Linked DNA regions of Homo sapiens. The protein of the gene in region 1 interacts with the protein of each later gene in a pairwise test. Each region holds a gene or a part of one and is shown on either strand. Other genes may lie near its edges.

Region 1 (3,819 bases):
CTCTGATTTCCCTATGAAATAAACACTCATGTAAAGAGTGGAATTTGGTATTAAATGAGTTTCATGTTTGCTAACTAAACTTAATTAAAAGTCACAGCGAAGTAAGGAGGCTTCCAGCGTAAATAGATATATCAATCTTAAAATAGTGCCATATGGGCCAGGTGCGGTGGCTCATGCCTGTAATCCCAGCACTTTGAGAGACCGAGGTGGGCGAATCACAAGGTCAGGAGATTGAGACCATCCTGGCTAACATGGTGAAACCCCATCTCTACTAAAAATACAGAAAAATTCACCGGGTGTGGTGGCAGGTGCCTGTAGTCCCAGCTACTCAGGAGGCTGAGGCAGGAGAATGGCGTGAACCCGGGAGGCGAAGCTTGCAGTGAGCCAAGATTGTGCCACTGCATTCCAGCCTGGGTGACAGAGCAAGACTCCGTCTCAAAAAATAAAAAAATAGTGCCAAATGATTTTGTAAAGTCTAAGTAACCTAATATTAGAAGTGTATGCTATAAATTTGGTAAACATGTTGGACTTTACTTGAAGGACAACAGGATATCTAAGATTGCTATATTTAAGTATTTCATTGAGAAAGAGAGTGAACAAAGCAAAGAATTTGAACTTATTAAGTTTTTAGAATTTCAGAAAAGGCTATTTAAATTTCTCTACTTAAAAACAAAAATCAAAGTGGAAGTGTCTAAGAGAGAAAGATCTAATCCACCGGACAGAGAGGAACTGACACAGTTTTGAGGTTCCTGGGTAGGAAAATGAGATGTTTCTAGACTTTAGTCAGGCTGTCTCAGGGCTGTTCTCAGCTCTGCTGCAATGTCGCAGTATAAATGACTTAGTAAATTACCTAACCTCTTTAGCTTCTGTTTATTATCTTTACAAAGAAAATGTGGAACTAGGTGATTTCTAAGTTCTCTTCTAGATATAATAGTATATGATTTTAACTTTTTAAGCCCTCCTGACCACTAGATTTTTTATAAAATCTTAAATCTCAAAAAGTTCACCAAAATAAACATGTGGAAATGTCCTCAATACAAACAGAAATTAAAACTAATAATAGCCACTGAGGGACTTCCAAATTCACAGACCTGCAACAGCCAGCACAACTGTGCAGAGGAAGGCAGATGTGTTTTCAGAATCTAGGACCCTGCTCTTTTCTATGGTTTCTGTCCCCAAGCTTATCCAAAACACCTCAATACTTTTTGGGAAAGACACAGGGGTCTACTTGACACATGACCCACCCTCTCTCTCCAGCTAGCTAACTCTGCCTGCCCCAAGTCCAGTGCAGAGTTATAAGAGCAAACTTTTGGCAGCCTGAGTCACACTTCTTGCTTTTCCAAGTACCCAAGGCTCCTGCCACCTTCATTGTCTAAACCACATCTCCTAGAAAAAGACAGGAATAGCATTTCCTAGTTCCTCTTCTACCAAGGAAAGTCAGAGCAAATGAGGAGGAAGTACAAGAGAGGAAATAAAGAGGATGATAGGAGGAAAACCTTATGAGGGCAAACATTTTTTTCTGGGCAGAGAAGGTAGAAAGGGGAAGGGGAATAGGGGCTACCTGAGACACTGTAAAAATACTCATTAACCACTAAATAAAATGTCTGAATCTTCAAACAATAAAACTTTGAAAATATGTACTAGGGTAGAAACTTATTTTTTGGCCAAGGTCTAAGTTGGTATTTCTACTTATGCCGTTTATGTGGTTTGTCGGTATTGATTAAAACCAATGCATCTACCTTTAAAAAAAAAAAGCTTCTTTAAGTTAAGAAAAACAAAAGACAAAATAGCACCTGAAGCTACCACATGTACTTATTAGCAATTCTTAACAAAGAAAGAGAGGAAAAAACTCCTCTGAAAATGTACCTGTTCCATTTTTGGATTAACTACACAAAAGTAATTAAGTAACCAAATTTAAGAAAAACAAGTAAAGTTTTCAAATTTGCAAAGTTTCTAAGTGATAGTGAAAAATACACAATGAAATGAAAGGCTATACCCCACTTTATAATTGCACAGCTGCTACACCGATGTTTCAACAATATGGTTGACATTCTTCTTCTGACTAAGTGGGCATATCATAATTTGACAACAGTGAAGTTGTAAGGGGCTGTTTAACCTTTGGTTTGTTGGAAGCCACTTTGTTATTATGCATTTCATTACAGAGTAAAGGATACAGCACTGGCATGATTTATACCAACAAAGACTGCTACACACCGCATTACACTGGACCACTCTCTTTTAAATTTATGTGGTTCTCCTAGATGTCTGTCAATGCAGGGGTATAATAACCCAATCACAGCTGTAGGGAAAAAAGAAAAAAATTAAGTTACCTCCAATGTTGTACTGGCAACACTTAAGCTAAAAGAATCACTACAACCACCACAAGCATTTTAAAGATTCTTAAAAAAAAAAAAACAAAAAAAAAAGTTATTTCACATCAATCACCGATATTTTTTAACTTACCTTCCAAAGGAAATGAAATGAGGATAACACCAATGAAGAAAGTATTGCAAATGATTACAACAACATTCTAAATTATAATCAACAAAATACTCTTCAAATGTATGATTCACAATTTAGCAGACTGGACTAAATGATTCGTGCTACTAAATGATTCATGCTACTTTTCTACTACTGATACCTACGAGACCTGAAAAAAGTATCAAACCAGTTAGCAGTTAAGTAATGTTCTCTCTAAACTCCAAACCATAAAATATTTATTATATGCCACAAATCTAAGAGAATCTAGAAGTATAAAAGTATACAACAAGCTCATCATACACACAATGTTCTGAAGGTTCTGGCTGGCCTCTTACGTAGATCAGTCTCGCCCCTACCAGCTTCCCGTTTTAGTCTTCAGCATGTAGCACCTTTTACTGACACTCCTTTCCACTCTAGCCCTTTAATGAGGCTGTAGGTCATATTGTCAAAGCAGGAAAACTCACAACAGAAATCTACAGGTAAGACTCATTCTGCACATAGAAACAATGGAGGAAACAAGGTGTAGAGGTATTTAAAATTTTCAGTTAAATTTTAAGTGCACTGTTAGAAGAAGAAATCATCTTAGTACTTCTCTTAGTTTTGGAAAGAACACTTTGAATGTTGTGTCATTAATTATACATAACTGTATATAAAATGTCAATGATTGAGTCCCAAAATATTCTCATCCCTTTCTTATTTCTCAAACCTCAACATTTTATTCATTTAGTGGGAAGGAATTTTAAGTGCTAAATTAGTTATTAAAAAGACTATTTAATGAAAATATTCTAATCTTCCTAAAAACAGGATGATTATGTTGTGCCATTCTGGCAATAAAGACACTACTGTCACATCAGTTGAAAAGCATGTTTAAAATAACCAATACCACTTAAGAGGAATCATGAAATTACAACGCCAAAATCTAAGTGCCTGAGGGACAAGAGGCCCTCCCCCTACCCAGTATTAGCCAGCTGTATCTCACAGGCAATGCATTCACTCTTCGAAGAAAAACAGAAACCAATTAGTATCAAAAATCACAGCCTAGCAGACCAATGGTGCAGCATTTGAAAAAGGCTGTGTGACCACCCTTCTATCTCGAGATGAGATGCTGCAATACTGTATGCATTTTCTAGTCCACAACTCTTTTGAGTTAGGCATGTGCTGAGTATAGATGGCTCACAGAACATCAAGAGATTAAGAACATATCTCGGCAATGCAGAGCTCCAATAACTATTAGTAAATCTAGAAGTTTCACACTATATTCCTATTTAAAAATCTGCTCCAAAATCCTGACAAGATTAACTGACAGGATTTTAAAATTTCTATACAAATAAAATGGCA
Region 2 (4,546 bases), on another chromosome or scaffold:
TAACACTTCTGAACTTCTTTTTCTCTTTTATAAAGAAAACACGATGTACCACGATGTTTAAGATTTAAGATTATAATTGTGTGTGTGTGTGTGTGTGTGTGTGTGTGTGTGTTTCCCTGGGAGCAATGATTCAGTATTCACTAATTCAGTGTTTGCAGCGACTTTATAGAGCATAACTATAACTACAGAACTATGAATAATGAGAAGTGATTGTATTGGATTAACAACTTGTCTCAGAAAGATCCTTTTTTAAAAACATATGTTTTACCCAAGAGGAGAAACCTTTTAGTGCCCATTTATACAAGGGTGTAACTTAATGTAATGATTAGGAGAGTATCAACTAAAAAAAGCAGGATTCTGAGGGAAAGAACCACAAGGAAGGCAAGGTCTTGATACTAAATCAGATATCCAAATAAAATATGCTGTTTTTATAGAGCAGAGTCCAGAAAGGCACCCCTGTGAGAAGATCTCGCTGCCTCAGAGGCACTTGGAGTCATTAGCACCTTGAGAAGACAGTGTGGGGAGAAAGAAAAGCACAGCCAGTTCTGGCTCCGGGCCATCCTCTTCTCCAGTCAGACCCTCTCTGGACCTCCTGCTCTTTGAACCTCCTGAGTCTTTTAGCTGTGTTTGACAAGTGTCAGACTCCATTTTCTGCAGGGCTTTTTTCCAGTCCCCAACAACCTCTGTGTGTTTTTGAGCATAAAAAGGAAAATTCTCAGATGGATTCACTGTTGAACTCAAGCAGGGTGTACACTGCCTGCTGGGGCCCACAGCAAATTAACCCTCAGCACAAAGACCCACAAACGTACCCACCACAGTAAACAGCATGTTGTCCAGGAGCAAAGCGACGAATACCACCACCAGCACCAGCTGCCGGGACGCTCTCCCCTCCTTCAGCAACCGCTGGGGAGCATCCAGAATGGTCCGGAGCATGGTGATGGCCGGACTGGGGCAGTCTTCCCCTGCGGGCTCTTAGGGAAGGTCCTGTGACAGCTACAGGTCTCCTGCAGCCTTTATGGAAGAGGGGAGGGAGTCTGCCCAGACGAAGGAAACTCACTATTAAAACGAAAAGTGCAAAGGGTTGCAAGTAGTAGGATGATATTTGGAAACATCTCCATGTCTGTATCACTGTTCACTTCTTATAAATCTCAATAACTCTACCTGGTTCCCAGAATGCCTTCCTGGTAAGCATCGCTTACTAGCTATTTATGTCTGGATTTATATCTAGCCATTAATTTCCCTTGAATTTAATGGCTAGGTATAAATCCAGATAAAAATAGATGCTCTACAGATCACTTAACCCTGTGTTTTTCAAACATCCGACATTTATTTGCCTATCACCTTGATGGTTTATGTCATATCTAAGGACTACCTGTACTATCATTTACTTCATCTTTTTCCTCTAGATCCACTCTTTTAAAATATTGAGATACTGCCAGGTATGGTGGGATGTGCCTGGAGTCTCAGTTACTTGGGAGGCTGAGGTGGGAGGATATCTTGAGCCCAGGAGTTTGAGTCCAGCCTGGACTACATAGCAAGACCCCTAACTCTCAAAAAATTTTTAAAACCAACATAGATATTGATATCATGTTTCAAAAAGTTATTTTATGTGGCATGCAAAAAAAGTATGACCTTTGTTCTAGGTGCTACCCCAAAATATTTCATGTGGCACAGTGTCACTTGGGCTGCCCACTGAGAAACACTGATGTAGACCAACCTTCATCTCATAGACAAGAAATCCGAGCCTCTGAAGGTTAGGAGATTTGTTTGGGGTTGCACAGTTAGTGTCAAACTGGGATGAAATCCCACGCTTTTCAACTTGCCAGCTTATCCTCTACCATGTTCCCTTGCTCTGTGGTTCTAGAAGCACGCTCATTCTTTTGTTTGAGCTACAAACCCCTGATCAGAAAGATGCCTTCATCTGTGAAAATAAAATATTGACTTTCATGATTAGTTCTCTATTCAGGATTTCATATCATTAGTCAGCATTAAGTCACAGTACCTTGTCAAACTTCAAGTAATAAGAGTTTCTGGGGAGAATTTCATTTTCTTTGACGTGGCTTCTGTTGTGGTATCAACAATATCACTCATTTAAATTTTAAAATAGATTACCATCATGAAATCTATCAGGCCCTAAAAATTGTATACTCTTTGACTTAGTAACTCTACTACAAGGAACCCATCCTACAAAAGAAAAAAGGTCAGAGATGCAGCCAAAGACTTATACTCAAAATGATCAATTGCAGAATTATTTTTCTTAGTGAAAAAAGTCAAACATGTTAATGGTGGATTATTAAGCGGCTCTTAAAAATTATATTTTCAAATAATTTTAATGATACAGAAAATACTATTACTATAACGTTAAGTAAAAAAGGGAAATTAAACTGTGTTTTCAACTTTATCTCAATTGTCTAAATATAAATATATGGGCACATTTTTGAGAGAGTAGAGAGATACTCAAATGCCAGTTATTTATAATCAATGACTTCAGTTATCTTCTGTGTATTTCTAAATATTCAATAATGAGCTACTTTTGTAATTAAAGAAGTAAATAATTTTAAATGATTATCACTGAAATTCAATAGTCAGCCTCAGGTGTTGGGAGTACCCCAAACACTGAGGTACTCTGTTCTAAGCCCAGGGCTGGAAGAACCCTCTCACTACTACATATTAACGTGACCAAGGTCCTAAGTGAACCAAATTCTCAGTTAAGTTTTAACCAGTAAATGCATGCAATTACTTAAGATCCTTCATTTCTCTATATAAAGGAGGTATTTCTGAATACAAATTGACTTAGGATATGTATGGATAAGAATAAAAGACAAGCCATGGAAAATTAAAAAACATAGTGAGTGAAGTAAGTACTACAAAGAGAGAGAAACACACACACCCAAATCCCAAAACAAAAACAAACAAAACCAGGAATTTGCCAACAAATCAATAGTAAACTTTACTTAACAGTCAAAATCCTCTGACAGAGACACAAATCACAAGGAAAGATTAAATTTGTCCGGAGAGAGAAAAATCTTACCTTGGAGCCCATGTTGGTGTGAGGCACTCAGTGAGGTATTGGCAGCTGTTAGCAAGACAGCAGGGACACTGTTCTCTGAACGTGGATGTGCTGTTGGATTTATTGCCTCCTGTTATCTGAGGATTCTGTGTATGTGTGTGTGTGTGTGCCTTTGTCCACAAAGATTTAATTGCAACCTCCAACAGGGTTCATTCAGACCCTTAGCTCCCTGCGTCAAAGGCAGGAAGGCAGGGCTGGAGAGGATAAAGAGAGGGCAGATATTAGCCTAAGCAAAGAGGCACTGGACTGTACTGTTTTGCATCTGTGCTTATCTATCATCGAACTCTTTAACTCTTGCCTGGGTCTGAATACAAATTGGAAGCCAAGATGGAACCAGTGTGCAGTTCCTGTTCCTTGCTACTTAGTCAAAGTGGCTCCATGTACCCCAATTAGCTTCCTGGAAAGAAACAATGTATGTTGTTCTCAAGCCATAAAAACCCAACATCTGTGGCCTCTGTAAAGGCTTAGATTATGCACTGTGTCTTCACATCTCAATACTGGCTCAGTGCCTGATACATGGTAGCATCCAATAAATATTTCTTGCATGGATGACTGGATGGTTAACTACAGGAGAAAGTGCAGTTCCTTGTGGGATCTTGAGAGGCTCTAATGATCTATATTATTCTGACATTAAACCATTGGTGGCTCAAAGAACATAAGCAATTTATGAAAAAGCAAATACACTTTACGAGCAAGAGCAGTGCAGAGATTTCCTATTTGTGGAACTGGTGGGCCCCTCCTAATTGTGGGAATTAACTAGGGAACTTTCGATTTAACGCTAAAAAAAAAGAAAATAGTTTTTTAATTTTATTTTTTTTATTTTTGAGACAGAGTCTCGCTATGTCACCCAGGCTAGAGTGCAGTGGCATGATCTTGGCTCACTGCAACCTCCACCACCTGGGTTCAAGCAATCCTCTAATCTCAACCTCCTGAGTAGCTGGGATTACAGGTGCATGCCACCATGCTCAGCTAATTTTTGTATTTTCAGTAGAGACAGGGTTTCACCATGTTGGCCAGGCTGGTCTCGAAGTCCTGACCTCAAGTGATCCTCCTGCCTTGGCCTCTCAAAGTGCTGGAATTACAGACGCGAGCCACAGCGCGCGGCCTAGATGGAAACAGTTTTAAAATGTAAACCTAGAGCGAGAAATAGGGATAGGAAACAAAGACATCAGCAGAATGTATTCATCGCTATAGTTTGCTGCTGTAACAAATTACTACAATCTGGTGGCTTAAAACAACACGTATTTAGTATCTTGCAGTTCTGGAGGTCAGAAGTCCAAAATACATCACACCGGGTTAAAATGAATGTGTCGGCAGGGCTGCATTCCTTCTGGAGATTCTGGGGGATGGTTGTTTCCTTGCCTTTTCCAGCTTCCAGAGATCTCCTGCATTTCTTGGCTCCTAGCCACTTTTACCCTCAAAGCTAGCAGCAATGCATATTCAACTCTCCCTCTGACTCTGAGCCTTCTGCCTCCC

The links.
Region 2: the proteins of INSIG2 (region 1) and SLC18A1 interact in a two-hybrid assay, tested with the Homo sapiens proteins (one large-scale study listed by BioGRID).

What each region holds. Positions count from the first base shown.
Region 1 is NC_000002.12:118,101,677-118,105,495, reverse strand, and holds part of INSIG2 (insulin-induced gene 2 protein), read right to left. Parts: intron 2,300-3,819; coding exon 2,175-2,299; intron 1-2,174. UniProt on the Homo sapiens protein: Oxysterol-binding protein that mediates feedback control of cholesterol synthesis by controlling both endoplasmic reticulum to Golgi transport of SCAP and degradation of HMGCR.
Region 2 is NC_000008.11:20,180,032-20,184,577, forward strand, and holds the start of SLC18A1 (chromaffin granule amine transporter), read right to left. Parts: upstream 3,106-4,546; 5' UTR 3,032-3,105; intron 1,922-3,031; exon of another isoform or gene 1,718-1,921; intron 1,057-1,717; 5' UTR 934-1,056; coding exon 810-933; intron 1-809.